3 separate regions of the Homo sapiens genome follow, and regions 1 and 2 are each linked to region 3. The links come from fine-mapping of genetic effects on gene expression. A gene starts in region 3. Each other region holds a variant in brackets. All regions are shown on one strand. Distances are between the middles of the regions.

Region 1 (10,773 bases), 29 kb before region 3:
GACAGAGCGAGACTCCATCTCAAAAAAAAAAAAAACCCAAAAAACAAAAAACGAAAAAACAAGTTATCTGTTGGAGATACATACTGAATAATTATCTTTCTTGTCTTGTAGCTATCAACTGTCAAACCATTAAGACAATAAGAATCAGGCTGATCAGGATTAAGAATGACTGAGAGAAGATTGCAGAGACTTAGACTTTAAGCTGGGTGCAGTAGCTGGTTGAGATTTTGGGACTGCCTTACTTAGAGGTCTGATGAATGCCTTTAGTGTGCAATGCCTGCATGGGAAGAAGGGCATGCATGGATATTAATCAGTTTAAGGATAAGCTGTCACCAACCATGTTTCTTGGTGAACTAAACACATTTTTAACCCAACACACATTTCTTTTTTTCTTTTTTTTGAGATGGAGTTTCACTCTTATCACCCAGGCTGGAGTGCAATGGCGCCATCTCAGCTCACTGGAACCTCTGCCTCCTGGGTTCAAGCAATTCTCCTGCCTCAGCCACCCCAGTAGCGGGAATTACAGGCATGAGCCACCACACCTGGCTAATTTTTGTATTTTTAGTGGAGATGGTGTTTCACCATGTTGGCCAGGCTGGTCATGTACTCCTGACCTCAGGTGACCCACCTGCCTTGGCCTCCCAAAGTGCTGGGATTACAGACATGAGCCACCGTGCCCTGCCCCAACACACATTTCTAACCCTCTCCTTGACAATTGCCATCATAGAGCCTGGAAAACTAAGTACTGGATTGGCTTTCCCAGTTTTCTCTATACCAAGGTGTGGCCATGTGAGACATAAATGAAAATTTTTTTGCAGAGGCCTCTAGGAAAACTCTTTGATAAAAGAAACAAATGATGTTGGTGGCCCTCCTTTTTCCTTTCTTGAATTTGGGTATGATTTCTGGAGTTGTAACAGCTCTTGCAACCATGAGGAAAATGCTCTAAACCAATGTGAGCAACTACCTACCCCCACTCTTCTTTAAAGCAATAAAAAATAAAATTTATGTTTAATTAAGCCACTGTTAGTTGAATTATTCTGTTATTTTCAGAAGAAAGCATTCTTAACCTATACATCACAGCAAAATGCTGGCAAATCCTATCTCATAAACTTTCATGAGGATTGAATAAATAAAATGCCTAACACTTGCCTAGGCAATTTACATGTTCCTCTGTCCACCCTACTTCCTAGATCAATTTAGCTACACATTGGGAGGAAGTTATAGTTTGATTATACCTTTTTATTAAAGCAGAGGTGAGTACCATATACAGTATTTTAATTTGCAAATCTGTCAGCTTTATGTAAGGTCAGGATAACATTTTCTAGTTTGTTCCATACTCTTATTCGTCACGCTCAATATTTTTGTTGACTTCTTTGGCCAGAAGAGTTTACTGCTCCAGCATCTTCCTGGAAGAGTCCACAATTGGGCTAAATCTATTTTAACCATTTCCCTCTAGATTTTTAAATTGTACTTGCCTACACAGACATTCCCCTGCCACTTTTCTGTAAGCCTGCAGAGCCTGGCATTTTCTTCTATTTTTCTTTGTTAGTTCAGTTGCTGCCTAAAAGCAAGACTAGGCTCTCATAGAGGTAGAATGGGGCTGGGCGTGGTGGCTCACGCCTGTAATCCCAGCACTTTGGGAGGCTGAGGCGGGCAAATCACGAGGTCAGGAGATCAAGACCAGCCTGGCCAACATGGTGAAACCCTGTCTCTACTAAAAATACACACACACACACACACACAAAAGCCAGGCGTGGTGGCTAGTGCCTGTAATCCCAGCTACTCAGGAGGCTGAGGCAGGAGAATTGCTTGAACCTAGGAGGCAGAGATTGCAGTGAGTCGAGATCCCGCCACTGCACTCCAGCCTTGGAGACGGAGCAAGACCCCATCTGGGAGGTGTCGGGTGGAAGAGGTAAAATGGACAGCAGCAAACCACACGTGTGATAGGAGAGAATACTGAGCTGAGATCAGTTTCCTAAAATATGAATCCGATTTCAGGATCACTCATTTATCTGACTGTCAAGAACGCCTCTGAACAGGAGGAAGACTTTGGGGAGAGGGTGGGGTTTGTTGAAAGGGTACCGAGAAGGGAGGTGGGTGGTACCCAAACAATTTGTTTACATAATGTTTTATGGACCTGAAATATGTAGAACAGTACTTTGAAACTAAAGTACTGTACTGAAGTTTAATTATTTTTCTTATTGTTTGCATATTCTCCCTCCCAGATACTTTACAGAGGGCGCTAAAGCTGATCCCCTGGGAGCTTCAGAGTTTAATGACTTCGCCTGAAGATTTCCTATTCTTTTCCACAACGTGCTAAGTCAAATTATGGCCAAATTACCAATCGCATGGTAATTCAGCTTCTAAATATATTTTGCAGAGTGTTTCCAAAAGTTAAAAAACAACAACAAAACTTCACCTAAATTGTTTTTACTTGCTTCACCTTAAATCAGTTATTCGGTTCCTTTGAAGAACATGTAGCTTTAGCAACCCCCAAAGTGAACCCAGATACCCAGGACTACTGATTGTTACATCAGAGTTTTTGAAAACGCCAATACTGGAAACAGGCCGACAGTTAAGGAGAGGCAGGCCTCAAACTAAAGCAGAACCTTCTCAAAACTACTTATATTTCAAGAGATGGATTAAGCGAAAAGAGCTGTACAAAGAAATAAGCCATTTTCTATGCGCCTGTTATATGCAAGGCACTGCACTCCCTTGTCACTTGTTAATTTACAAGAAGACTCGCCGGTCCAGGGAAGGGAGAGGGGAATAGGTGCAAGGTTTGTGGAGGGCGGCAAACTGCACTCCATGTGGCGCGAGGCTGCGCTTGCGGAGATCCGGGTTCTGGTGCCTGGCGCCGGCAGCCAGTAGGGGCGCGCGTCCTGCGCAGTTGCCGCGCGCGGCCTCCTCGGGCTTCAGGCCGGGCCAATCAGGAGGCGGGCGGGAGGGGGCGCGGTACCGGGAGGGAACGGGGCGGGTCGGGCTTCGAGGTCAGCTGGTCCGCAGGGAAGCCTTTGGCTTCCCCACCGGCAATGGAGCGGTTGACGTTGCCTCTCGGCGGCGCGGCGGCGGTGGACGAGTACCTGGAGTACCGGAGGTGAGGCTGTGGCTCCGGGCCTGCCCCCCCGCCGCTCCGAGGGGCCAGGATCCCTGGGCTGGGGGCGCGAGCAGGGGCCCGGCGGGCGTCCGCGGGGGTTCCCGGAATCTGTGCCTGGGCTGTTGGGGGAGGCCTAGATGAATTCCAGTTTAGTCTTTGCCTAATTAAATATTGTAGGGCCACGCGGTTCTATGCAGTGATGAGTCTTCCAATAACATTTAAGAGGCCCCTCTGCTCCCTTCCAAGAAGGATGACTAACTCTAGATTGATACAGAGGTCCAGCTGTTTTTTAAATGGCCATTGAAAACAGGCACATCGAGTACTCGGGGCTATAGAAGTTAGCATACATCAAATTAACCCAGTAATTGAGTCAACCGTGAACTTCTGAACGCGCTCCCCACCCCGAGGTGCTGGTTTTAGGAGAAAGGCACCGACTGGTGTTTGGTATTCTGGAGAAACCCCTTCCGAAACTGGAAACGGAGTCGCTCCTTTGGCCTGAGGACGCGGTTCATTGTCCTGGATCCTGACCGAGGCTGGTGCACCTGCAGCGACGCGCTCTTTTTCCGCTTCCTGGGGTTTTTGATCGTCCGGAATCTGGGCGGATGGGAAGTCCTGGAGAGGACCGCCTGAGGACGCGGAGTTGGGGCGGGAGGATGTGTGTGTACAAGCGGAGGGGAGACGCTCCAGGCTCCGCCAGGGAGGCCGGAGCGAGCGACAGGGGCTCCTCTGCGGCATCGTGGGTGGCCCAGATGACCCAGAGGTGTGCGCGCAGACGGCCCCCCAGCTGACTGTTCTCCCCTGCTCTGACTGCCCTGTTTGTGTAGTTTTGGGTAACCCTTAGAACTGCCTGGATATTCTGAGCCAGAAGAATAAGGGCTAGGAGCTTGATGGGGTCAGTTCCCACGCCCGGTTCAGGGTCAGAACAACCACCATCCCGTCCTCTCCCAGAGCAGAGCCGGCTCCTTTAGCCTCCAGTTCTCCAGAGCTTTTGCCTGGGAGCAAGTTGCTGGAGCTGGTGTTGACTGATAACTTGGATATTTAGATATGTGAATTGTGGGCCTCCAGTTGACTCTTGCCTAGCTCCGAACATGTTAGGGCAGACCTATGTATGTAGTTATTTATTTTATTGAGAAATTATTTAGTTATTTATTTTATTGAGACGGGGTCTGACTCTTTCCCAGGCTGGAGTGCAGTGGCGCGATCTCGGCTCACCGCAATCTCCGCTTCCTGGGTTCAAGTGATTCTCCTGCCTCAGCCTCCCGAGTAGCTGGGACTACAGGCGGCCAGCTAATTTTTGTATTTTCTGTAGAGACGGGATTTCACCACGTTGCCCAGGCTGGTCTTGAACTCCTGGACTCAAGCTATCCACCTGCCTCGGCCTCCTAAAGTGTTGGGATTACAGGCCTGGGCCACCGCGCCCGGCTGGGAAATTATTTTTGCAATCGTAAATAACTTGCAACACTTCCCTCTGAAAGAGATTATCAGGTCCTTTACTGACGTCAGAATTTTAGAAAAGTGGGGAAAACAGGACTTGAGTACCTAGATATGAAAAGGTGGGCTGGGAAGGTGGGGTGGGAAGATGAGTCAAAATATGAGTTTAGAAGGAAACAAACTTTCCTTCCGAAGAGTTTTCCTGGATTTGCTCTTGCCTAGGTACTTCGGTGGGAGTCGGTTGGGAGGGGAAGCATGCAGCCTTGTTACTCACACTGTGGGAGGCCCTGACCAGTGTCCTGGCATCACCTGTTAGCTTGTTAGAAAAGCAGAATCTCAGGCCCACTGCAGACCTATTATTATTATTATTATTTAGAGTCTCGCTCTGTCACCCAGGCTGGAGTGCAGTGGCACTATAATGGCTGACTGCAACCTTGACCTCCTGAGCTGAAGCGACTCTCTCTTCTCAGCCTCCTAACTAGCTAGGACTACAGGCATGCATCTCCGCACCCAGCTAATTTTAAAATTTTTTGTAGAGATGGGATCTCACTAGGATGCCCAGGCTCATCTTGAGATCCTGGCCTCAAGCAATCCTCCCACCTCAGCCTCCCAAAGTGCTGGTATTACAGGTGTGAGCCACCACATCTGGCTTTATCATGTGTGTGTGTGTGTGTGTGTGTGTGTATGTATATATATATTTATTATTATTATTATTATTATTATTATTTTTTTTTTTAGATAGAGTCTTGCTCTGCTGCCCAGGCTGGAGTGCAGTGGCGCTATCTCAGCTCACTGTAACCTCTGCCTCCGTGGAAGTGATTCTCAGTGCCTCAGTTTCCAGAGTAGTTGGGATTATAGGTGCCCACCAAAATACTAATTTTTGTATTATTGGTAGAGACAGGGTTTTGCTATATTGGCCAGGCTGGGCTCGAACTCCTGACCTCAAGTGATCCTCCTGCTTCCGCCTCCCAAAGTCCTGGGATTACAGGCATGAGCCACTGTGCTGTGAGTCTTAATCTGCATTTGAGCAAGATCCCCTGGGGATTCTGTAAGTACAATAAAATTTGAGTTGCACTGGTCTAGAACTTAAATACCAATGACATCTTACTTTTAAAAGATCTTTTAAAGATCCGTATTTATCTTAAGATCTTAATACCTGTTGGTATTCTTGATAGCTACAAGAAAATGAAATGGCCCAAAATTTATCTCAGAATTAAATGCCCTTTGTTTCTTTACTATTATGTATCTAGATTGTTTATGTAAAGAAGGCGGTTTTGATTATTTCATAGCTTATAAATTGGTTTTTCTTTTTTTCTAATGGCAAGTACATAGAGCAATGGTTTTTATTTTCTACCGCAGCTAAAGGCTTCAAAGTATGGAAAAAAGCATGTATTGCACAAAAAAGTATGTAGCATTCCACAAACATCACTTTTTGTGACTTTTCAAGGGGAGTATTTTCAGGGAGAAATGTCTTCAGTTTTGGAAAAACTTCTTTTAGTCGTGCTTTCTTTTCCTCCAGGGAGGCCAACTCTTAATTTCTTTTCATAGAAATAGTGGGGGCTTTATGTTTTCCCATAATATTTTGGGTTCTTACTTCTGAAATTAACCCATGATAAACTTGATTACCTAACACACAGATGTGGTTGGAGCTTGTGCTGAGCCAAGTGTGTATTTAGGTTCCGCATTAGTTTAAACCCCTGGCCAGGGTTTGGAGACAGGTATGGAAATTAGTCATGTTGGCTTCTGCTTTGATGTTTTTTGTACTCTTTTGGGATACATTTTCAAAGGAGGTAAATGTTAGAATTTTGAGCAGTTAAGGCTCTACCTTTAATGAGAGGAATGAACATCTTTGCTTCAATATCAAAGGAAAAGCTGAGACGAATATGTGGTAATCCTCTGTTGATAAACCTGGATCAGTAAAGTTGCATTATGAATTCATTGTCTTTCCTATTTATAACCCTCTT[A/G]TATAGGAAGTGGAGGGGAGAAAAGATTTCTTTTCTCACCCATCACTAGGTTCATGGCTGAGACACCTATGTTTCTGGATCAAACCGATAGTTGGGCTGCCTATTCTCGTGGCCCAGTAATGTGATTCAGATGAACTGGGAAAGAAGGGAGATTATTTCTGTAACTGGTTATAGGGAGAAGGCCTGGAAGATATCGCCAGACCAATTCAAAATTACATATGTTTATAAGTATATATATGTTTATGTGTAAGTGTGCATTTATCTAAAGACATAAATGATTAACTTCTAATCTATAACTAAGATCTGAGTCCTGAAGACCTTCCTCTGGAGCCTCAGTAAATTTAGTTAATCTAAATGGGTCCAGGTGCTGGGGTGATTACTCTGGTCTTGTCTCCTGCTGAATCATGGAGGTTTGGGGAGTTCCTTCAGACCCCCAGTAAACTTGTTTGTGGAGGTCTGGGGAGTTTCTTCAGACCCCCAGTAAAACTTGTTTAGTCCCAAACGGGTCCTTTAAGAATTCCTTCGTTATGTTGTCATGCTTCGAGGCCCAGGAAAGGCCTGGGCAAACGCTCGGTGGGCTTTTGTTACATTCCAGCCTTTGTATAAGGACCCTGGTTCTATTAGCTTTTAATATTTAACTTAACCACTCAGTCAGTGCTGAAACAGTTGTTACAGAGACCCGGCCTGCCACATCTGTAAGAAAAGACAGATTTACAAAATAAAAGCTTACAAATTTATTTAATATTTGCAGTGGCCTGGTCATAGCTCACCCAGAAAATAAATACTCAAAGCTTAAGAGAAATATATATTTTTGTTGTAGAATTGTTGGTGAGGATGATGGAGGGAAACTTTTTACTCCTGAAGAATATGAAGAATACAAAAGAAAAGTTTTACCTCTGCGCTTACAAAACAGATTATTTGTGAGCTGGCGGTCACCAACAGGGATGGATTGTAAACTTGTGGGCCCAGAGACACTGTGTTTTTGTACACATAGGTAAGATACTTTATTGCAAAGTTTTTTGATAATTAGAAAATAAAAAGCTAAGCATATCTTACTTCTACAAATCGTAATGATTGAGAAACATTTAACAATTGTCCTTTATATAGTAGAGTAGAAATTATCAGCTGGGGATGGTGGCTCACATCTGTGTTATCCCAGAACTTTGGGAGGCCGAGGCCGGAGGACTGCTTGAGCCCAGGAGTTTAGTCTGCAGTGAGCTATGATTGTGCAACTGCATTCAAGCCTGGGTGACAGAGAGTGAAACCTTGTCTCTTAAAAAACAAAAATTGGCCGAGCTCAGTGGCTGACGCCTGTAATTCCAGCACTTTGGGAGGCCGAGGTGGGTGGATCACGAGGTCAGGAGTTTGAGACCAGTCTGGCCAACATAGTGAAACCCTGTCTCTACTAAAAATACAAAAAATTAGCCGGGCGTGGTGGCACACGCCTGTAATCCTAGCTACTTGGGAGGCTGAGGCAGGAGAATCGCTTGAACCTGGGAGGTGAGGTTGCAGTGAGCTGAGATCACGCCACTGCACACCAGCCTGAGTGGCAGTGTGAGACTCTGTCTCAAAACAAAGCAAAACAAAACAAAACAAAACAAAACAAAACAAAACAAAACAAAACAAAACCCCACAAAAATTATCTAAAGGTTTTTAAAGCTATAATTAAAAATTTTCCATCATATCTTATTAGTGCTCATCATGGAGTCTGTCACCTTAAGCAGTTCTCTTGCCATTGGTAAAAATGTTTGGTGGCCCTGTGGCTTTGCCAGGGGTCTTTCAGTTTGACTGGGGAGCAGTCTACCTACATCTCACATCATTGGAGAAAGTAGAGAATGGGTCATCAGATTGAGGAACTACTTTAAGCGTTGCTTGAATTGACCCACACTGATCATGCTGTCCATCTATAAGTATAAACATTTCTCCTCAAATTTACTAATTGCCTTTTATACCTTAAGGATCTGCTGTGTCGATACCTTTCTTTAAACAAACAAGCACACTGCTTTGCATTACAAATGGTCATGTTCCAAGAAAAGTGCCTAAAGGAAAGGAAATAAGTGAGGCTTCAGTTTTTGGCTTGAGTTGTCTGTATCTGAAGTTTGCGTTTTGCTGTGTGTATGCTCTACTTTAAATTTTGCTACCGTCTCACAGTTGTAAATAAAGTTCAGAATACCTAAGCTGCTTCACAGAAAAGTCTCTGAACCTGTTCCATGTTTTCAGGCAGCAACTTTAACTTTCGGTTCCAAGAGGAACCACCCTATTCTGATAGCAATTTCTGGGGCTCTTTCACAGAGACTCTTTGTATAGTTGCTATTTACAGAGTTGCAGTTTGCCAAAGTTTGTTAGGCAGTTGCTAGGATGAGTAATGTTGTATATAGATTGATTATAAATTTATTTAGCAACTCCAACTAAAAACACTGAGGAGGAATGGAGGATAAGGGATGTGTTGATATCTTTCAGAATTAAAGAGGGGTTTGGTAAGTTTGTGATAGTTTTATAATTTATTCTTACACAAATTTAGTGCCACTTTCTAATCTCTGTATAACTTATACAGCATGGACTTGAACGTCAGAATTGATCCAACTCAACTTTTTTTTTTTTTTGAGACAGGGTCTTACTCTGTCACTCAGGTTGGAGTGCAGTGGCACGATCTTGGCTCATTGCAGCCTCGACCTCCTGGGCTCAAGCGATCCTTCGACCTCAGCCTCCCAAGTAGCTGGGACCACAGGCGTCTGCCACCACATCCAGCTAATTTTTGTATTTTTTTGTAGAGAAGTGGTTTGGCTTTGTTACCCAGACTGGTCTGGAACTCCTGGGCTTAAGTTATCTGTCTACCTCGGGCTTTCCAAAGTACTCAGATTACACGTGTGCGCCACCATGCTCAGCTGACCCAACTCAACTTTGATGGAGAAGTTATTATATTTAGTACTGATCCACTCAGTGAGATTTCTTCCAAACTTTTTCACCCCACTATTAAAGTGGTATATGATTATCAAGGAAAATGGGGGATATATAGAAACATAGAATATATTCTATATACAATATATAGAAGCAGCTCACTACCCAAAGCCAGCTGCTAGTTTTTTTTTTTTACAATATCTGTATGACTTTTTCTTTTTTTTTTGAGACGGAGTTTCACTCTTGTTGCCCAGGCTGGAGTGCAGTGGCGCGACCTCAGCTCACTACAACCTCTGCCTCGTGGGTTCAAGCGATTCTCCTGCCTCAGCCTCCTGAGTAGCTGGGATTACAGGCATGCACCACCATGCCCTGCTAATTTTGTATTTTTAGCAGAGACGGGATTTCTCCATGTTGGTCAGGCTGGGCTCGAACTCCCAGCCTCAGGTGATCCACCTGCCTTGGCCTCCCACAGTGCTGGGATTACAGGCATGAGCCACTGTGCCATTTAACTGTTGTGAAGTATGTGTGTGCATAAAATACTGAGCCACTTTTTAATGACAGAATCATAGAAATATGTTTCCACATTGTTATGTGCTGATCAAAAACAAGATTTTTAATACCTGCCAGCTAGTCCAGCTAGTCCAGTGGTGTTTATCTGTGTTCTCCGGAGCTGTGAGGGAGCCTTGGGGGTGTGCCAGGTGGAAGGGCAGGTTAGAAGGGGAAACTCTATTCTGTTCTTCCTTTCGCTTTAACCAATTCTGCATTTGTTTTATGTATTCTGGTTCTATAAAAGATTTTATTTGACAAAAGGGTTTCACTGCTAAAATGTTTGAAAACTGTTGTCTAGTAATTTACTTACTGGTTCTCTTATGTCGTGTGGGTGTGTGTATAATGTAGCTGATGTAAGTACTATTGCTAATATTATTGGTATGCATAAAGCTTTTTCTATATATGGAATTATTTTCTTAGGGTATATTTTCCAAAAATGAAATTTCTGGTTCAAAGAATGGACCTTTTCAAGTTTCTTGAAACATTATTAAATAGAATTTGTTCTTTTGTAACACTCTTTTTTTTTTTTTTTTTTTTGAGACAGAGCCTCGCCTGTTGCCCAGGCTGGAGTACAGTGGTGCCATCTCAGCTCACTGCAACCTCTGCCTCCTGGGTTCAAGGGATTCTCCTGCCTCAGCCTCCCGAGTAGCTGGGACTACAGGCATACACCACCATGCTGGGCTAATTTTTGTATTTTTAGTAGAGATGGGGTTTTCATCATGTTGCCCAGGTTGGTCTTGAACTCCTGAGCTCAAGTGATCCACCTGCCTTGGCCTCCCAAAGTGCTGGGATTACAGGCATGTGCCACAGGCTCCTGGCCCTTTCGTAACACTC
Region 2 (10,773 bases), 85 kb after region 3:
CCTATTGTGTACTTTCTACAAATTGGCTTGATGTATATTTTAGGTATCATGCTATTGTCTTGGTTCTGTTGAAGTCAAGATTAACAGTGAAGATGATTTTGTCCTACATTAATCTGAAAGCAGTTCATGCATATATGGAAAATAAATGTTAAATAAGCCTTGGGTATATTCCTGCTTCCAGTGTAGACCAAATAGCTGTTTCTCATCCATAGTTTAAGAATTAAGAAGTTGGATGGAGCTGGAGACCATTATCCTAAGCGAATTTACTGTGGATCAGAAAGCCAAATACTGCATGTTCTCACTTATAAGTGGGAGCTAAACACTGAGTACATATGGACACAAAGAAGGGACACTGGGGTCTACTTGAGGGTGGAGGTTGGGAGAAAGGTAAGGATTGAAAAACTACCTGTTAGGTATTAGGCTGATTACCTGGGTGACAAAATTATCTGTACACCAAACTCCCATGACACACTGTTTACCCATGTAACAAACCTGCACATGTACCCCTTGAACCTAAAATAAAAGTTGGAAGACAAAAAAATAAAAAGCTTGTTTCATGTTGTACTGCTATTTTACGTAGAGAATGCCTCTTTTTCCAAAGTCTTGAGTGTGACAAAACCTTATCTTTGTTGATCACATAAATAAAAATAATCTCCTTGTTAGAAAAACAAGAGTTAAGAGGGATTAAGTATTAAGAGAAGGAAGACTATTCTTATCAGCCCAGGGGCCAGCAAGCATTTTCTGTAAAGGACCAGATGGTCTCTGTTGCAAGTACTGAGTTCTGCTGCTATAGCATGAAAGCAGCCATAGACAGTATGTAAACAAATCAGTGTGGCTCTTTTCCAGTAGTACTTTATTTATGGATATTGAAATTTGAATTTCATGTAGTATGCATGTGCATGAAATAGTATTCCTTCAGTTTGCTATTAAACATTTAAAAATGTGAAAACTACCCTTGGCTTGCAGCTGTACAAAAACAAGTAGTGGAATCAGTTTGGTGCAGAGGCCATATAGTTTGCTGATCTCTGTTCCAATCAGTGTAATAAGGTCAAAAAAAGAAATAAAAGTCATAGAGTTTGAAAATGAAGAAATAAAGCTGTCTTTATTTGCAGATGACATGCTTAATTATGTAGAAAATCTTTGAGAATGTACATAAAAGCTACTAGAACAAATGAGTTTAGAAAGATAGCAGTTTTAATTTCAATATAATTGTGTTTTTATATAAGCAACAAATAATAGGAAATTAAAATTTAAAAATCATTTACAAAAGTATTAAAATATGGAATTTGTAGGGGTAAATTTAGTAAAAGATGTGCAAGAGTTGCACACTATTAAAACTACAAAGCATTGTTCAGAGAAACTCAAGAAGACATAAATAAATGGAGCGATACACCATGCTCATGGACTAGAAGACATTGTATGGATATCAGTTGTTCTTGGCTTATAGATTCGATGCAATTTCAACAAAATTGCTGGTAGATTTTGCTTATTTTTTCAGAAATTGACAATTAGATTTTACAATTAATATAAAAATGGAGAGGATCTGAGATAGCCAAAACAAGTTTGAAAAAGAACAAAATTGAAGGACCCAAACTACCTGATTTTATGACTTAATAGATTCTAGGAAATTAAGACAATGTAGGCCTAGAGTGGTGGTTCAAAACTGTAATCCCAGCACTTAGGGAGGCTGATGCAGGAGGATTGCTTAATGCCAGGAGTTGAAGACTAGCCTAGGCAACACAAGTGAGCACCCCCTGTCTCTACAAAAAATAGAAATTAGCTGGGTGTAATGGCGTGTCTGTGGTTCTAGCTCCTTGGTAGGCTGAGACAGAAAGATTGTTGGAGTCCAGGAGTTTAAGGCTACAGTAAGCTATGACTGCTCCACTGCACTCCAGCCTAGGCTACAGAGCAGGACCCTGTTTCTAAAAACACAAGTGATACTGCTGTGAAGTTAGATGTCCAGATGAATGGAGCAGAATAGAGACAATATAAATAGACTGCACATGTATGATAACTGGCTTTTGACAAAGATGCCAAGGCAGTTCTCTGGGTAAAAGGAGAATCTTCAACAAAAATGATACAGGCCAACTCATACCATATGTAGAGAATAAATTTTGATTCATTTCTTATACCATGCACAAAAATTAGCTCAAAATGTGTATCAGACCTAAATGTAAAACGTGAGTCTAAAACTTATAGAAGAAAACATAGGATGAAATATTTGACTTTCGATTTGGCAAAGATTTCTTAAGTAGGACACAGAAAACATCAACTCTAAAAGAAAAAAATCATTTGGATTTCATCAAAATGGAAAACCTTGCTCTTCTAAAGACATTGTCACAAAAATGAAAGGCAAGCTACAGACTAGGAGAAAATATTTGCAAAACATATATCTGACAAAAATATTATATCCAGATTATCAAGAGCTCCTACAATCAATACTAAGAAGACTGCCCAGTTAAGAAATGGGCAAAATATTTGAACAGGTACTTTACCAAAGAAGGTGTCCACATGGCATGTAAGCATGTGAAAGATGCTCTGAACACCATTTGTCATTAGGGAACTACAGATTAAAACCAAAATGAGATACCACTATACTACTCACTATAATGTATAAAATTAAAAAGATCGTACCAACGGTTGCTTAGATCTGTTGTACCTAGAACTCATATATATTGCCCAGGGGAATGTAAAGGGAACAACCACTTTGAAAAACATTTGGCAGTTTGTTAAAAGGTTGAACATATTCCTACCCTATGACCCAGCAATTCCACTTCTAGATATTTAGCCAAGAGAAATGAAAGCATATGTCCACACAAAGATTTGTATGTAAATATTGAAAGAATTTATGTGTAATAGATGAAAACTAGAAACAACTCAAAGTCCATCAACAGATGAATGGAAAAACAGTCTGCTATGTATGTGTCTATCCATTGGAATACTACTCAGGAATAAAACGATTGAACTATAAATATAACTCAGTAAGATAGGTGAGTCTTAAAATAATTCTGCCAAGAGAAAGAAGCCAGATGATAAGGTTTGGCTGTGTCTCCACCCAAATCTCACATTGAATTGTAATCCCCATGTTTCAAGGGTGGGGTCAGGTGGAGATAATTGAATCATGGGGGTAGTTTCCCCCATGCAGTTCTTGTGGAAGTAAGTCTCACAAGATCTGATGATTTCATAAGGGGCATTTTCCCTTTTGCTTGGCACTTCTTGCTGCCCCCATGTGAAGAAGAATGTGTTTACTTCCCCTTCTGCCATGATTGTAAGTTTCCTGAGGAATCCCCAGTCATGCTGAACTGTGAGTCAATTAAACCTCTTTCCTTTATAAATTACCCAGTCTTGGGGATGTCTTTTATTAGTGGTGTGAGAAGGGACCAGTACAGTAAATTGGTACAGAGAGTGGAATGCTGCTGTAAAGATACCCGAAAATGTGGAAGCAGCTTTGGAACTGCGTCATGGGCAGAGGTTGGAGGGCTCAGAAGAGGACAGGAAGATGTGGGAAAGTTTGGAACTTCCTAGAGACTTGTTGAATGGCTTTGAGCAAAATGCTGATAGTGATATGGCCAGTGAAGTCCAGGTTGAGGTGGTCTCACCTGGAGATGAGGGACTTGTTGGAACTAGAATAAACGCGACTCTTGATGTTTTAGCAAAGAGATTGGTGGCATTTTGCCCCTGTCCTAGAGATTGGTGAAACTTTGAGCTTGAGAGAGATGATTTAGAGCATCTGGTGGAAGAAATTTCTAAGCAGCAAAGTGTTCAAGAGGTGACTTGGGTGCTTTTAAAAGCATTGTTTTGTGTAATCACAAAGATATGGTTTGGAATTGGAACTTATGTTTAAAAGGGAAGCAGAGCATAAAAGTTAGGAAAATTTGGAGCCTGATGATGTGGTAGAAAAGAAAACCCGTTTCCTGGGAGAAACTCAAGCCAGCTGCAGGAATTTGCATAAGTAACAAGTAGCTGAATGTTAATCGCTAGGACAATGGGGAAAGTATCTCCAGGGCATGTCAGAAAGCTTCGCAGCAGCCCTTCCCATCACAGGCACAGAGGCCTAGGAGGAAAAAATGGTTTCATGGGCTGGGCCCACGGTCCCCCTGCTGTGTGCAGCCTTCAGACATGGTGCCCTGTGTCCCACCTGCTCCAGTCATGGCTAAAAGGGGCCAAGGTACAGCTCAGGCCATGGCTTTAGAGGGTGCAAGCCCCAAGCCTTGTTAGCTTCCATGTGGTTTGAGCCTGAAGGTGCACAGAAGTCAAGAATGGTGGTTTGGGAACTTCCACCTAGATTTCAGAGGATGTATGGAAATGCCTGGATGTCCAGGCAGAAGTTTTCTGCAGGGGTGGAGCCCTTATGAAGATACTCTGCTAAGACAGTGCAAAACGGAAATGAGGGGTTGGGGCTCCCACACAGAGCCCCAACTGGTGTACTGCCTAGTAGAGCTGTGAGAAGAGGGCCACAGTCCTCCAGACCCCAGAATGGTAGATCCACTGACAGATCACACTGTGTGCCTGGAGAGGCAACAGACACTCAATGCCAGCCCATGAAAGCAGCCAGAAGCGGGGCTGTAGCCTGCAAAGCCACTGGGGCAGAGCTGCCCAAGGCTGTGGGAGCCCACTCTTGCATCAGTGTGACCTGGATGTGAGACATGGAGTCAAAGGAGATCATTTTGGAGCTTTAAGATTTGACTGCCCTGCTGGATTTTGAATTTGCATGAGGCCTGTAGCCCCTTTGTTTTGGCCAATTTCTCCCATTTGGAACAGGTGTATTTACCCAATGCCTGTACCCCATTGTATCAAGGAAGTAACTAACTTGCTGTTGATTTTACAGGCTCATAGGCAGAAGGAACTTGCCTTATTTCAGATGAGACTTTGGACTGTGGACTTTTGACTTAATGCTTAAATGAGTTAAAACTTTGGGGGACTGTTGAGAAGGCATGATTGTTTTTGAAATGTGAAGACATGAGATTTGGAAGGGGCCTGGGGTGGAATGATAATGGTTTAGCTGTGTCCCCACCCAAATCTCACCTTGAATTTTAATAATTCCTGTGTGTCAAGGGCAGGCCCAGGTGGAGATATTTGAATTACGGGGTGGTTCCCCCATACTGTTCTCATGACTTTAGCCCTATGCCTGCATGTATATTTAAAGTTGTCTGGTTTCATTGAACCAGCACCCTCATGGAAATAAACTAGCATGATTTTCATCAATGCTTCAGTAATCTATTCTTTATATCAGAAGGGTGAAAGTAAACATATCAAGTTTTTTTTTTTGTTTCTGGGAGGACTCATAAGATATCCCATAAGTGTGGTAATAGCAGTTTTTATTCCACCTATTTCCTTTAAATGATAGTAAAAAGCTCCATGAGTAAATATATTGTCTGATTTTCTACTCTTATGTATTGTTGATTAAGTCCTTTAAAAACTTTATTTTTAGATTAACTTGTACAATGGACTTTTTTTTGTATACATTCTATGAATTTTAACACACCTATAGATTAGTGTAATAACCACTGCCACAGCCAGGATGCAGAACAGTTCCATAACCCTGAAAATTCCTGTGTGCCATCCCTTTGTAGTCACAGCCTCCTCCCAACCCTTAAACGCTGGCAACCACTGACCTTTTATCACTGTGTTTTGTGCTTTTAAGAATGTCTCACACATAGCAATATGAACCTTAAATGTAAATGGGCTAAATGCCCCAATTAAAAGACACAGACTGGCAAATTGGATAAAGAATCAAGACCCATCAGTGTGCTGTATTCAGGAGACTCATCTCACATACAAAGACACACATAGGCTCAAAATAAAGGGATGGAGGAATATTTACCAAGATAA[T/C]GGAAAGCAAAAAAAAAAGCAGGGATTGCAATCCTAGTCTCTGATAAAACAGAATTTTAACCAACAAAGATCAAGAAAGTGTAAGAAGGGCATTACATAATGGAAAAGGGATCAACGCAACAAGAAGAGCTAACTATCCTAAATATTATATGCACCCAATACAAGAGCACCAAGATTCATAAAGCAAGATCTTAGAGACCTACAAAGAGACTTAGACTCCCACACAATAATAGTGGGAGACTTTAACACCCCACCGTCAATATTAGACAGATCAACGAGACAGAAAATTAACAAGGATATTCAGGACTTGAACTTAGCTCTGGACCAAGTGGACCTAATAGACACCTACAGAACTCTCCACCCCAAATCAACAGCGTATACATTCTTTTCAGCACCACATAACACTTATTCAGAAATTGACCACATTATTGGAAGTAAAACACTCCTCAGCAAATGCAAAAGAATGGAAATCTTAATGGTCTCTCAGACCACAGTGCAATCAAATTAGAACTCAGGATTAAGAAACTAACTCAAAACTGCACAACTACATGGAAACTGAACAACCTGCTCCTGAATGACTACTGGGTAATTAACAAAATTAAGGCAGAAATAAATAAGTTCTTTGAAACCAATGAGAACAAAGACACAATGTACCAGAATCTCTGGGACACAGCTAAAGCAGTGTTTAGAGGGAAATTTATAGCACTAAATGCCCACAGGAGAAAGCGGGAAAGATCTAAAATCGACACCCTAACATCACAATTAAAAGATCTACAGAAGCAAGAACAAACAAATTCAAAAGCTAGTAGAAGACAAGAAATAATTAAGATCAGGGCAGAACTGCAGGAGCTGGAGACATGAAAAACCCTTCAAAAAATCAATGAATCCAGGAGCTGGTTTCTTGAAAAGATTAACAAAATAGATAGACCACTAGCCAGACTAATAAAGAAGAATCAAATAGACACAATAAAAAATGATAAAGCAGAAATCACCACTGATCCCACAGAAATCCAAGCTACCGTCACAGAATGCAATAAACACCTCTATGCAAATCAACTAGAAAATCTAGAAGAAATGGAAAAATTCCTGGACACATACACCCTCCCAAGACTAAATCAGCAAGAAGTCGAATCCCTGAATAGACCAACAATAAGTTCTGAAATTGAGGCAGTTATTAATAGCCTACCAACCAAAAAAAGTCCAGGACCAGACAGATACACAGTCGAATTCCACCAGAGGTACAAAGAGGAGCTAGTACCATTCTTTCTGAAACTGTTCCAAACAGTAGAAAAAGAGGGAATCCTCCCTAACTCATTTTATGAGGCCGGCATCATCCTGGTACCAAAACGTGCCAGAGACACAACAAAAAAAGAAAATTTCAGGCCAATATCCCTGATGAACATTGATGCAAAAATCCTCAATAAAATACTGGCAAACTGAATTCAGCAGCACATCAAAAAGCTTATCCACAACAATCAAGTCAGCTTCATCCCTGGGATGCAAGGCTGGTTCAACATATGCAAATCAGTAAACATAATGCATCACATAAACAGAACCAAAAACAAAAACCACATGATTACCTCAATAGATGCAAGAAAAAGCCTTTGATAAAATTCAACACCCTTCATGCTAAAAACTCTCAATAAACTAGGTATTGATGGAATGTATTTCAAAATAATAAAAGGTATTCATGACACACCCACAGCTAATATCTTACTGAATGGGCAAAAACTGGAAGCATTCCCTTGAAAACTGGCACAAGACAGGGATGCCCTCTCTCACCACTCCTATTTAACATACTATTGCAAGTTCTGATCAGGGCAATCAGGCAAGAGAAAGAAAGGGTATTCAAATAGGAAGAGAGACAGTCAAAGTCTGTCTGTGTGCAGATGACATGATTGTATATTTAGAAAATCCCATCATCTCAGCCCAAAATCTCCTTAAGCTGATAAGCAACTTCAGCAAAGTCTCAGGATACAAAATCAGTGTGCAAAACTCACAAACATTCTTATACACCCGTAACAGACAAAGAGCCAAATCATGAGTGAACTCCCATTCACAATTGCTACAAAGAGAGTAAGATACTTAGGAATACAGCTAGCAAGGGATGTGAAGGACCTCTTCAAGAAGAATTACAAACCACTGCTCAAGGAAATAAGAGAGGACACAAAAAAATGGAAAACAAATTCCATGCTCATGGATAGGGAGAATCAGTATCATGAAAAGGGCCATACTACTCAAAGTAATATGTAGATTCAGTGCTATCCCCATCAAGCCACCATTAACTTTCTTCACAGAATTAGAAAAAACTACTTTAAATTTCATGTGGAACCAAAAAGCCCGTATAGCCAAGACAATCCTAAGCAGAAAGAACAAAGCTGGAGGCATCATGCTACCTGACTTCAAACTATAGTACAAGGCTACAGTAACCAAAATAGCATGGTACCGGTACCAAAATAGATATATAGACCAATGGAACAAAACAGAGGCCACAGAAGTAATGCCTCAGAAGTATCTACAACCATCTGATCTTTGACAAACCTGACAGAAGCAAGCAATGGGGAAAGGATTCCCTATTTAATAAATGGTGTTGGGAAAACTGGCTAGCCATATGCAGAAAACTGAAACTGGACCCCTTCCTTACACCGTATACAAAAGTTAACTCAAGATGCATTAAAGACTTAAGACCTAAAACCATAAAAGCCCTAGAAGAAAACCTAGGTAATACCATTTAGGACATAGGCATGGGCAAAGACTTCATGACTAAAACACCAAAAGCACTGGCAACAAATGCCAAAATTGACAAATGGGATCTAATTAAACTAAAGAGCTTCTGCACAGCAGAAGTGAACACATCAGAGTGAACAGGTAACCTACAGAATGGGAGAAAATTTTTGCAATCTACCCATCTGACAAAGGTCTAGTATCCATAATCTACAAAGAACTGAAACACATTTACAAAAAGAAAACAACCCCATCAAAAAGTGGGCAAAGGATATAAACCGACACTTCTCAAAAGAAGACATTTATGTGGCCAACAAGCATATGAAAAAAGCTCATCATCACTGGTCATTAGAGAAATGTAAATCAAAACCACGATGAGATACCATCTCATGCCACTTAGAATGGCACTCTTTGAAAAGTCAGGAAACAACAGATGCTGGAGAGGATGTGGAGAAATAGGAACGCTTTACATTGTTGGTGGGAGTGTAAATTAGTTCGGCCATTATGGAAAATAGTGTAGCGATTCCTCAGGCATCTAGAACCAGAAATACCATTTGACCCAGCAATCGCATTACTGGGTATATACCCAAAGGATTATAAATCATTGTACTATAAAGACATGCACACTTAAGTTTATTGCAGCATTGTTCACAATAGCAAAGACTTGGAACCAACCCAAATACCCATCAGTGATAGACTGGATAAAGAAAATGTGGCACATATACACCATGCAATACTGTGCACCCTTAAAAAAATGATGAGTTCATATCCTTTGCAGGGACATGGGTGAAGGTGGAAGCCATCATTCTCAGCAAACTAACACAGGAACAGAAAACCAAATACCTCATGTTCTCACTCATAAGTGAACATGTTCTCACTCATAAGTTGAACAATGAGAACATATGGACACAGGGAGGGGAACATCACACAGTGGGGCCTGTTGGGGAGTGGGGGTCTAGGGGAGGGATAGCATTAGGAGAAATACCTAATGTAGATTATGGTTTGATGGGTGCAGCAAACCACCATGGCACATGTATACCTATGTAGCAAGCCTGCACGTTCTTCACGTGTATCCCAGAACTTAAAGTATATAAAAAAAAGAAAAAATAGAAAAAAATATAAATAAAAATAATATCATATTAGTGGTATCATACAGTATATAATTTTGTGAGTCTAGCTTCTTTCATTCAGCATGTGAATCATCTTTTGTGATTCATTCAAGTTGTCTAATGTAGTTTTTCCCTTTTTTGTTTCTGAATAGTGCTCTGTTGTATGTACATACCAAATTTGTTTGTTCACCTGTTGCAGAACATTTGCATTGTTTCCAGTGTCTGACTATTGCAGATAAAGCTACTGTGAACATGTGTGTATAGGTTTTTATGTGAACGTAAGTTTTTGTTTCTCTATGGTAATTACCCAGGAGTGAAATTTCTGGGTCAGATTGTAATCGTATGTATTATTCTTTAAGGACCTGCCAAACTGTTTTCCAGAGTGGCTGTACTGTTTTTGATTTTCACCTGCAATTTATGAAAGTTTCAGTTCAGCATCATTGTCGGCACCTCGTATTGTTATTATCTTCTATTTTAGCCATTCTCATAGGTGTGTGGTAGTGTTTCATTGTGGTTTTAATTTCTCTAATAGATAATGATGTTGAGCATCTTTTAGTTTGTTTATTATTGGCTTTCTGTATTTTCTTTGGTGAAGTGTCTGTCTTTTGCCTGTTTTTTAATTGGATTTTTGTTTTATTGCTGTAGAGTTTTGGGCATTCATAAATACATTCTAGATAGAAGTCCTTTATCAGATGTCATTTGCAATGATTTTTTTCTGGCCTGTAGCTTTTCTTTTTATTTTCTTTTCAGTGTCTTTTGCAGAGAAAAGGGTTTTAATTTTGAAGTTTAATTTATTATTGTTTTCTTTTTATGTATCATGCTTTTAGTGTTGTGTATAAGAACTCTTCGCATAACCCAAAGACTTGAATATTTTTTCTTATATTTTCTTCTAAAAGCTCTATAGTTGTATGGTTTACATTTAGAGCTGAGATCTCTTTGGATGTAATTTTTGTGTAAGGTGGGAGGTTTATGTCAGGGTTCATGTTTTTGCATATGGATGTCCAATTTTACAACACCATTTTTTTAAGAGAGTGTTATTCTCTGTTGAATTGTCTTTGTATCTTTGTCAGAAATAAATCGGCCATTTTTGTGTGAGTCTGTTTGTGGA
Region 3 (7,718 bases):
CATCTGGGTGACAGAGCGAGACCCTGTCTTACACACACACACCCACCCACAAAAAAACTATCACAGAAATAATACACAATATACTAAAGTTATATTTCTATATACTAGCAACAAAACAAACAAGTTGAAATTAAGAAAATAATACAATTTACAACGGCATGAAAAATGAAATTCTTAGGGATAAATCAGACAAAAGTAAAACTTTTATAATGAAAAGCATAAAACATCACTCAGCGAGATAAAATAAGACCTAAATAAATATACTGTGCTCATGGATCAGAAGACTCAATATAGCTAAGATGTCCATTCTCCTCAAATTGGTGTATACATTCAATGTGATCCCAATCAAAATCACAGCAGGCTCTGTGTGTGTGTGTGTGTGTGTGTGTGTGTGTGTAGATGCTGACAAATTGCTTCTACGATCGCATGAAATAAAACTACCGTAATTAAGACAGTGTGGTATTAGTCTAAAGAAAGCAAATAGATCAGTGTAACAGAACAGAGAATCCAGAAATAGACTTGCGTATGTATGGTTAATTGATCTCTGACAATAGTGCAAAGACAATTCAATAGACAAATGACAGTGTTTTAAACAAATGATGCTGGAAAAATTAGATATCCATATGCAATAAAATAAAATTTGATTGTTTCACATGTTATAAAAATAAACTCAAAAAGGACTATATATCAAAATGTAAAGCTTGAACATGTAAAATTTCTGGAAGAAAATATAGAAGAAAACTTTTGTGAACCAGGCTAGTCGGAGATTCCTTACATACAACACAAAAGCATGAACCATAAGACAAAACCGATAAATTAGACTTTATTGAAATTAAAAACTTTTGTTCTTTGAAGTACCCTTTTTAGAAAACAAAAAGACAGCTGTAGACTGGGAGAAAATATTTTCAAACCTGAAGGAGTTTTATCCACAGTATATAAAGAACTGTCAAAACTCAATAATAAATTCAGTTAGAAAACAGGAAAAAGCTTGGACACCTCATTTAGGAAGATCTGGATGGAAAATAAACATAAGAAAAGTTTCTCAACATTTTTAGTTAGTAGAGAAATAAATGCAAATTAAAATCACAAGGAGATACCACTTTAAACATTTATACATGAATGTTTAAACTTAAAAACACAAACCATATCAAATGATGGTGAGGATATAGAGCAACTAGAACTCTGAAACCCGCTGGTGGGAATATAAAATAGTACAACTGTGTAAAACTATGCGGCAATTTTTTAAGCACATATACAATTCTATGACTTGGCCATTCCACTCCTAGGTACTAACCCATGAGATATGAAAACATATGTCCATACAAAGACTTGCACACAATAGCAGCTTTATTTGAAACAATTCAAAACTGGAAGCAGTCCAAACACCTATTAAAAGGTAGATAAACAAATTGTGTTATATTCATGCAGTGGAATAGTAACAGCAATAAAACCCAACAAACTCTTGACACATAGGACGAAATTTATCAATCAAAATAATTATGCTATTGGAAAGAAGCTAGATTAAATGTTCATACTGTATGATTCTATTATCGTAAAATTCTAGAAAATGCAAACTAATATATGGTGACAGAAAGCAGAACGGGAGCTGGGAGGAGTCAGGTATTACAACCGGGCATGAGGAAACTTTGAGGTGATGGAAAAGTTTATCTTAATTGTGGAGGTGATTTCAACAGTGTATACATATGTTCACCCTTAACAAATTATGCACTTTTGATATCTGCAGTTTATTGTACTTTAACCTTCAAGCTGTTAAAAATTAACCGGAGATAATTTTCAATTGTTGTGTAAGGTTTGCCACAAAGTGTAATATCTGCAAAGAAGCAGACAACTAATTTTTTCTTCTTAAGATTGTGGAAAAAGTTGTAATACTACAGAGAGCTGTGGAATCTAAGGATTAGTTGACCAACGCTTGTAAAGCTACCAATCTGAAAAACACATTTTCAGTTACCAAAGTTATTTTCTCTCTTCCATCGTGTAAATAGAATGTCGGGGTTCTTCTAATTTGGGTGTTTCTAAAATTTAAATCCACGTGAACAGATTAGGAAAGACCACGAAATCCTACGTCACCTCTAAAGTCACAGCTTGAAGCCTTGCGAAAGGAACTGGCCCTAGACCCCACCCCGGCCTATAAATCACCAGGGCGCAGCCTCAGTGCCTGGGGGTCGGCAGCAGCCAGCGTCAGGCGGCTCCCGCACGCTTCTTCCTAGGCGGCAGGCCGTGGCTGCCACGTGACTCCCGCTAACACCGGATGATGGCGCAGCGCTGTGCACGCAGGCGCAGTGTGGGGCCCTTGCGGTCGAAGCTCACGCGGTAAGCCGCTGCACGTGTGCTACGGCGGGCGGAGGGCCGAAAGTCCAGTATGTGGGTCCAGGGTCACTCTTCTAGAGCTTCCGCAACGGAAAGTGTGAGGTCAGTAGTAGTTTTTGTGGTACGTGCAGTGGTGGCCGCTTCAAGGACTATTTTCGTCGCTGCTTGCGTTTTAAGTCTCCAATCCTGGGACGAGGCCCATTTCAGGGTTTTCTGTCACCTTCTAGCCGCCCGCCACCCCAGAGGGGTGCCAGATGCCCCAGTTTTTGAGTGCATGCAGGCAGGCGAAAGTGGCTCGAAAAGACCTCCGGCCTGAATGATCTCCATGAAGACGCGGTCACGCAGCCTCCACACTCTCTTCCCCTTCTCGAAAATTCTGTGCCATTTAAGTTTCAAAATCCCTTATAAAATAAGTGTCAGAGAGCTACGTGTACCCGTTTCTTCCAAATTTTCATCACGAAGTGGAGATTTGGACGTACTATTTTGTGATCTCTGTTTGCAGAAAGTGGGTACGGCATCAGTGCCTTCATAATCAGGGCAAGTCATTTTAAAATAAGATTTAAAAACTACTCTAGAAGTAGCTTCTTGGAGTGTGTGGAGAGATTTCCAAAGTAATTTTAACTTTTACTGAATTTAAGCCTTAATGCTTTCCGTGGGAATATATAGTCTCCCTAAAAGTTATTACAGCTTTTCAGTCAGTTGAATTTAAAAACTGCTTTTTGACCAGTAGAAAAGAACCCTTGCTTTGGAGACATTTTCATGCCACTTACGAAAAATTTTTTTAAAAAATTAAGTTGTGACAAAGTAATCCATTTTTAAAATTTTATTTTTCTGTGATGAGGAGTTAATGTTTTCCTTTTCATAATGAGAGAGCATTTGAAACTTTAGTATAGTGGTGTTCCTAGACAACTTTTAAAGCTCTTAAAAAATTGCGGTGGCTTAGGCCTGTAATCCCGGCACTTTGAGAGGCCGAGGTGGGCAAATCACAAGGTCAGGAGTTCAAGACCAGCCTGGCCAACATGGTGAAACCCCGTCTCTACTAAAAATACAAAAATTAGCTGGACGTGGTGTCACGCGCCGGTAATCTCAGCTACTTGGGAGGGTGAGGCAGGAGAATTGCTTGAACCCGGGGGGTGGAGGTTGCAGTGAGCTAAGATCTCCAGCCTGAGCGACAGAGCAAGACTTCGTTTGGGGGGAAAAAAAAAAAAACCCATAAAAAATCTGTGTTTTAATTTTCCTTCAACACTTATGAATGGAAAGTGCAGTATTTTAGTATATTACAGATAAAATTACATAGTGTACATTTATTTTGGAATATTTTTGCATTTGATAAAGTATAATATTATGTAATTAAAATTATTTTTGAAGTAATAGGCAAAATTTTAGGTATTTTTGCAGTCTTTAATCCCACGGAATCTTCAAAAATAGTAACCACCGTGCCTTTTACATAAAATAGACTACCAGTTTAAAGCATTTGTTCTATTACTTGTAATGTTTCTCTTTGTTTACATTGTGGAAGTCCTTTTTATGGGAGGATATTTTCTAAAAAAAGAATATGTACATTGTTTCAAAGTATTGATTTATGTAAGTGATCAAAATGTATATGAGTTCAGTATAAGTTTGTAAAAGTTTGGCTAGAGATAATTTTAAGGATAGAGATTATATATGATAAAATTGCATCTACTACAAAATACTCAAAAGAATTAGTTAGTGAAGGAAATATTGAGCTCATTTTTAATATAGAGTTTGAATTTTGATAACTGCATTTAGGACAAAACATTTGTAAGAATTGAACATGATGTAGTTTAGTCTTCATTCATTATTAATGGTGGATTATTGTAATCTAATTTAAGGTATTGTTCTAGTTTTTCAGGAATTGTTCAAATGGATGAAGATACACATTACGATAAAGGTACTGACACTAAAAATTATTTTGGGGTGTAAGAGCTAGATGATACTGATTAATTTCTAATTTTCCTTGTATTGTGATTTGATTTTAGTGGAAGATGTGGTTGGAAGTCACATAGAAGATGCAGTAACATTTTGGGCCCAGGTAAATAGCAAACTGGTTGATATCCCCCCTCACCTCCCCCAATCCAGTTCCTCCCCAACAAAAACAAAAATAAAACCCAGGAATAAATACATTTGTCATTCTCATTGCCTAATATTTATTGAATTATTTATCACCAGGCATTATTAGGAGACAAATGTTGACAGCTGTGATGTTACTTGACTCATTATGAGTCAAGTGTTATGCCCATAATACACCAAGTTTGAAAAAAGAAAATTGGCAAGATTGTGATTTCAGAATTCCACTCAATTCTAGGCTGCTTTTGCTGGATTCTGAGAGCCTGTTGTATTTGTGAAGTTATAGCCCCATCTAGGGGTCTTTTATAAGATTGTTTCTTGAAGGAGGATAAGTTAAAAATCTCGGTCGTTTTTTCTAATGGCTTAAATTTGAGATGTGGTATTTTTCTCATTATAGAATTGGAAGCATGAATGAAACATTTCTGATTTTCTGTTGGGAGGGTGTCAGTTAGGTAAGGTTACTCAGTTTTAAATACAAAGCAAGCACTGAAGGGCTGTGTTCCACAATTTAAGAAGGTAAATTCCTCTGATGCACAGAACGACCTGCTAATTTTTGGTTTTGTAAACTATACATGATACGGAAGGGAAAGAAATTACGTTTCTCTATACTCCCTACAGCATGGGAACTCCTTTTGGTGGGGGGTGAGGTGAACTCGTAATGTGGGAAATAAGGAGAATATATGAGAAGAAAGTTCTAGAAGAATATGATTAACCCAGAGTTCTTAAATATATAGTCATGCATCACTTAATGACTGGGATACATACAGAGAAATGCATCATTAGGCAACTGCGTCGCTGTATGAACATCATAGAATGTACTTAGAGAAACCTGGATGATATAGCCTACCACATACCTAGGCCATGTGGTGTACCTGTACCTCATGTTACTGTACTGAATGCTGCAGACAATTGTAACACAATATTAAGTCTTTATGTATCTAAACATGAAGGTACAGTAAAAACATATTATAAAAGATTAAAAAGTGGTACACCTGTATAGGGCACTCACCATGAATGGAGCTTGCAGGATTAGAAATTGCTTTGGGTGAGTCATTGAGTGAGTAGTGAGGAATGTGAAGTCCTGGGACATTACTGTACACTACTGTATACTTTATAAATACCATACACTTAGGCTACACTAAATTTATAAAAATATTTTTCTTCAATAAACCTTAGCTTACTGTAACTTTTAATAAACTTTTGACTCATTTGTAGTAACACAGCTTAAAACAAACATTGTAGAGCTGTGCAAAAATATTCTTTACGTCCTTATTCTAAAGCTTTCTTCTCTTTTTAAACTTTTAATTTTTTTTTACTTTAAAAACTTTTTGGTTAAAAACGAAGACAAGATCTTCAATATCACTGTCTTTCACTTCCGCTTCTTGTCCTACTAGAAGGTCTTCAGGGTCAGTAATGTGCATGGAGCTGTCATCTTCTGTAATAAAAATGCCCTTTTGGAATACCTTCAGAAGGACTTGAGGCGGCTGTACAGTTAACTTTTTTAAATAAGTAGGAGTACACTAAAATAAGAAAAATTATAGTAAAAAAAAATATATATATACACACACACCAGTGACATAGTTATTTTCATTACCAAGTATTATGTACTGTACATAATTGTATGTGCTGTGCTTTTGTGAGACTGGGGCACGGTAGGTTTACACCAGCATCACCACAAATATGTGAGTAATGCATTGTTCTATGATGTTACAATGGCTAGGACTACACTAGGCAATAGGAATTTTTCAGCTTCATTATAATCTTACGGGACTACTGTAGTGTGTGTGGTTCATTCTTTGACCACAATGTCACTATGTGGGGCATGGCTGCATGTAAAAAAAAATTGTAGAAGGGTGATGTTATAGAAAACTTGGGGCAAATTCGTGTGTCTGCTTATGCACATATATTTGGCAAATTTGTTTCTGCTTATGCATATTCTCTAAAGGTTGCTCACACGTTCTGGTTCCATGCCCATTGTCTCTGTATTAGTGACAACTGCATCACTCTCAACAGTGTCCCAGGGTGGATGATAAATTATATTTAAGCTTATTATACAGAAACATCATTTATCAGTGTAAAAAGATTTTCTAGACTAGTGCTGTCTAGTAGAAATATATGAGCCATGTAAGTAATTTTAAAACATTTTTGGCAGCCACATTGAAGAAACTAAAAATAGCAGGTGACATTTTAATAAGTACATTTTATTTAACTCAATATATCCAAAATATTGTTTCAAAATATAATTAGCATAAAAATGTGAACAGGATAGTTTATATTTCCTTTTTAATATTGTCTTTGAAATCCAGTGTGTATATTAGACTTACAGCATATCTCCTTAGACTAGCCATATTTCAAGTGGGTATTGGCTATTGTATTCACTAGTGCAGCTCTAGACTTTGATTTCAGTTTACTTTATTTGTGAATATGTTGATTGAATTTGGAGCAAATTCAAGAGTCAGCAGTTTTTTTTTTGTAAAGGATCAGATGATGAGTATTTTACCATTTTTAGGCCATACAGTTTGTTTTGCAGCTATTCAATTCTGCCAACATAGTGCAAAGCAGCCATAGACATAATGTGAATGAGTGTGTGTAGCTGTGATGCAGTAAACTTTATTTACTAAAACAGGCGGCTGTAATTTGCCAACCTCTGAGTTAAACCATGAAGTTGAGGCTCTTGTAGAAGAACGTTTAAAACAGGAAACATGCGCATGAAAAGATTAAACATTAAAACTACTAATGGTATATAAATGAATGTAGTGGTTATTTCAATAAGCAAATTGGCAAATTTGGTTGGGGTTATGGTGGGATATAGGCATAGAGAAGACTAGAGATTTGGAAATACGCGTAGGCAGATTAGGATGAAAATCTGCTCACGTGTATTCTCCATTTTTTTTTGCCCTGTGGGCTTCTGCCTTATAAACCACTTATAAGCAAACACTTCAGATTGGATGAGTGGCAGCTGAAGGAATCTGACGTATTTGACTCCACCTGTTTCTTTGAAAGAACAAGCTTCTGGTCAGGCATGGTGGCTCATGCCTGTAATCCCAACACTTTGGGAGACCTATGTGAGAGGATCGCCTGAGCCCAGGAGTTTGAGACCAGCCTTGGCAACAGTAAGACCTTGTCGCTACAAAAAAAAAAAAAAAAATTAGCCAGGCATGGTGGTGCATGCTTGTGTTCCCAGCTATGTGGGAGGCTGAGGGTGGGAAGATTGCCTGGGCCCAGGAGATTGAGACTGCAGTGAGCTGAGATTGCACCAAACAAACAAACAAACAAAGAGCTCCTATTTGTTTTAGTCTGTA

What was found.
Region 1: its variant is fine-mapped to the expression of STK31 in minor salivary gland (GTEx, PIP above 0.99).
Region 2: its variant is fine-mapped to the expression of STK31 in whole blood (TOPMed, PIP 0.94).

The regions. Positions count from the first base shown.
Region 1 is chr7:23,677,187-23,687,959 of GRCh38, forward strand. FAM221A (family with sequence similarity 221 member A) reads left to right here and starts at 3,013. Exons shown (of 7, transcript NM_199136.5): 1 at 3,013-3,097; 2 at 7,313-7,486. The coding sequence starts at 3,033. RefSeq lists a silencer at 2,947-3,236 and an enhancer at 3,567-3,816. The variant A/G (reference allele first, on the strand shown) is at 6,493.
Region 2 is chr7:23,791,099-23,801,871 of GRCh38, forward strand. The region is part of intron 22 of STK31 (serine/threonine kinase 31); the gene reads left to right. Among named protein-coding and RNA genes, the nearest start is that of STK31, 86 kb to the left of the region's middle. RefSeq lists a silencer at 4,219-4,419. The variant T/C (reference allele first, on the strand shown) is at 5,833.
Region 3 is chr7:23,707,906-23,715,623 of GRCh38, forward strand. It overlaps STK31 (serine/threonine kinase 31), which reads left to right and starts at 2,314. Exons shown (of 24, transcript NM_031414.5): 1 at 2,314-2,430; 2 at 4,194-4,240; 3 at 4,329-4,381. The coding sequence starts at 2,381.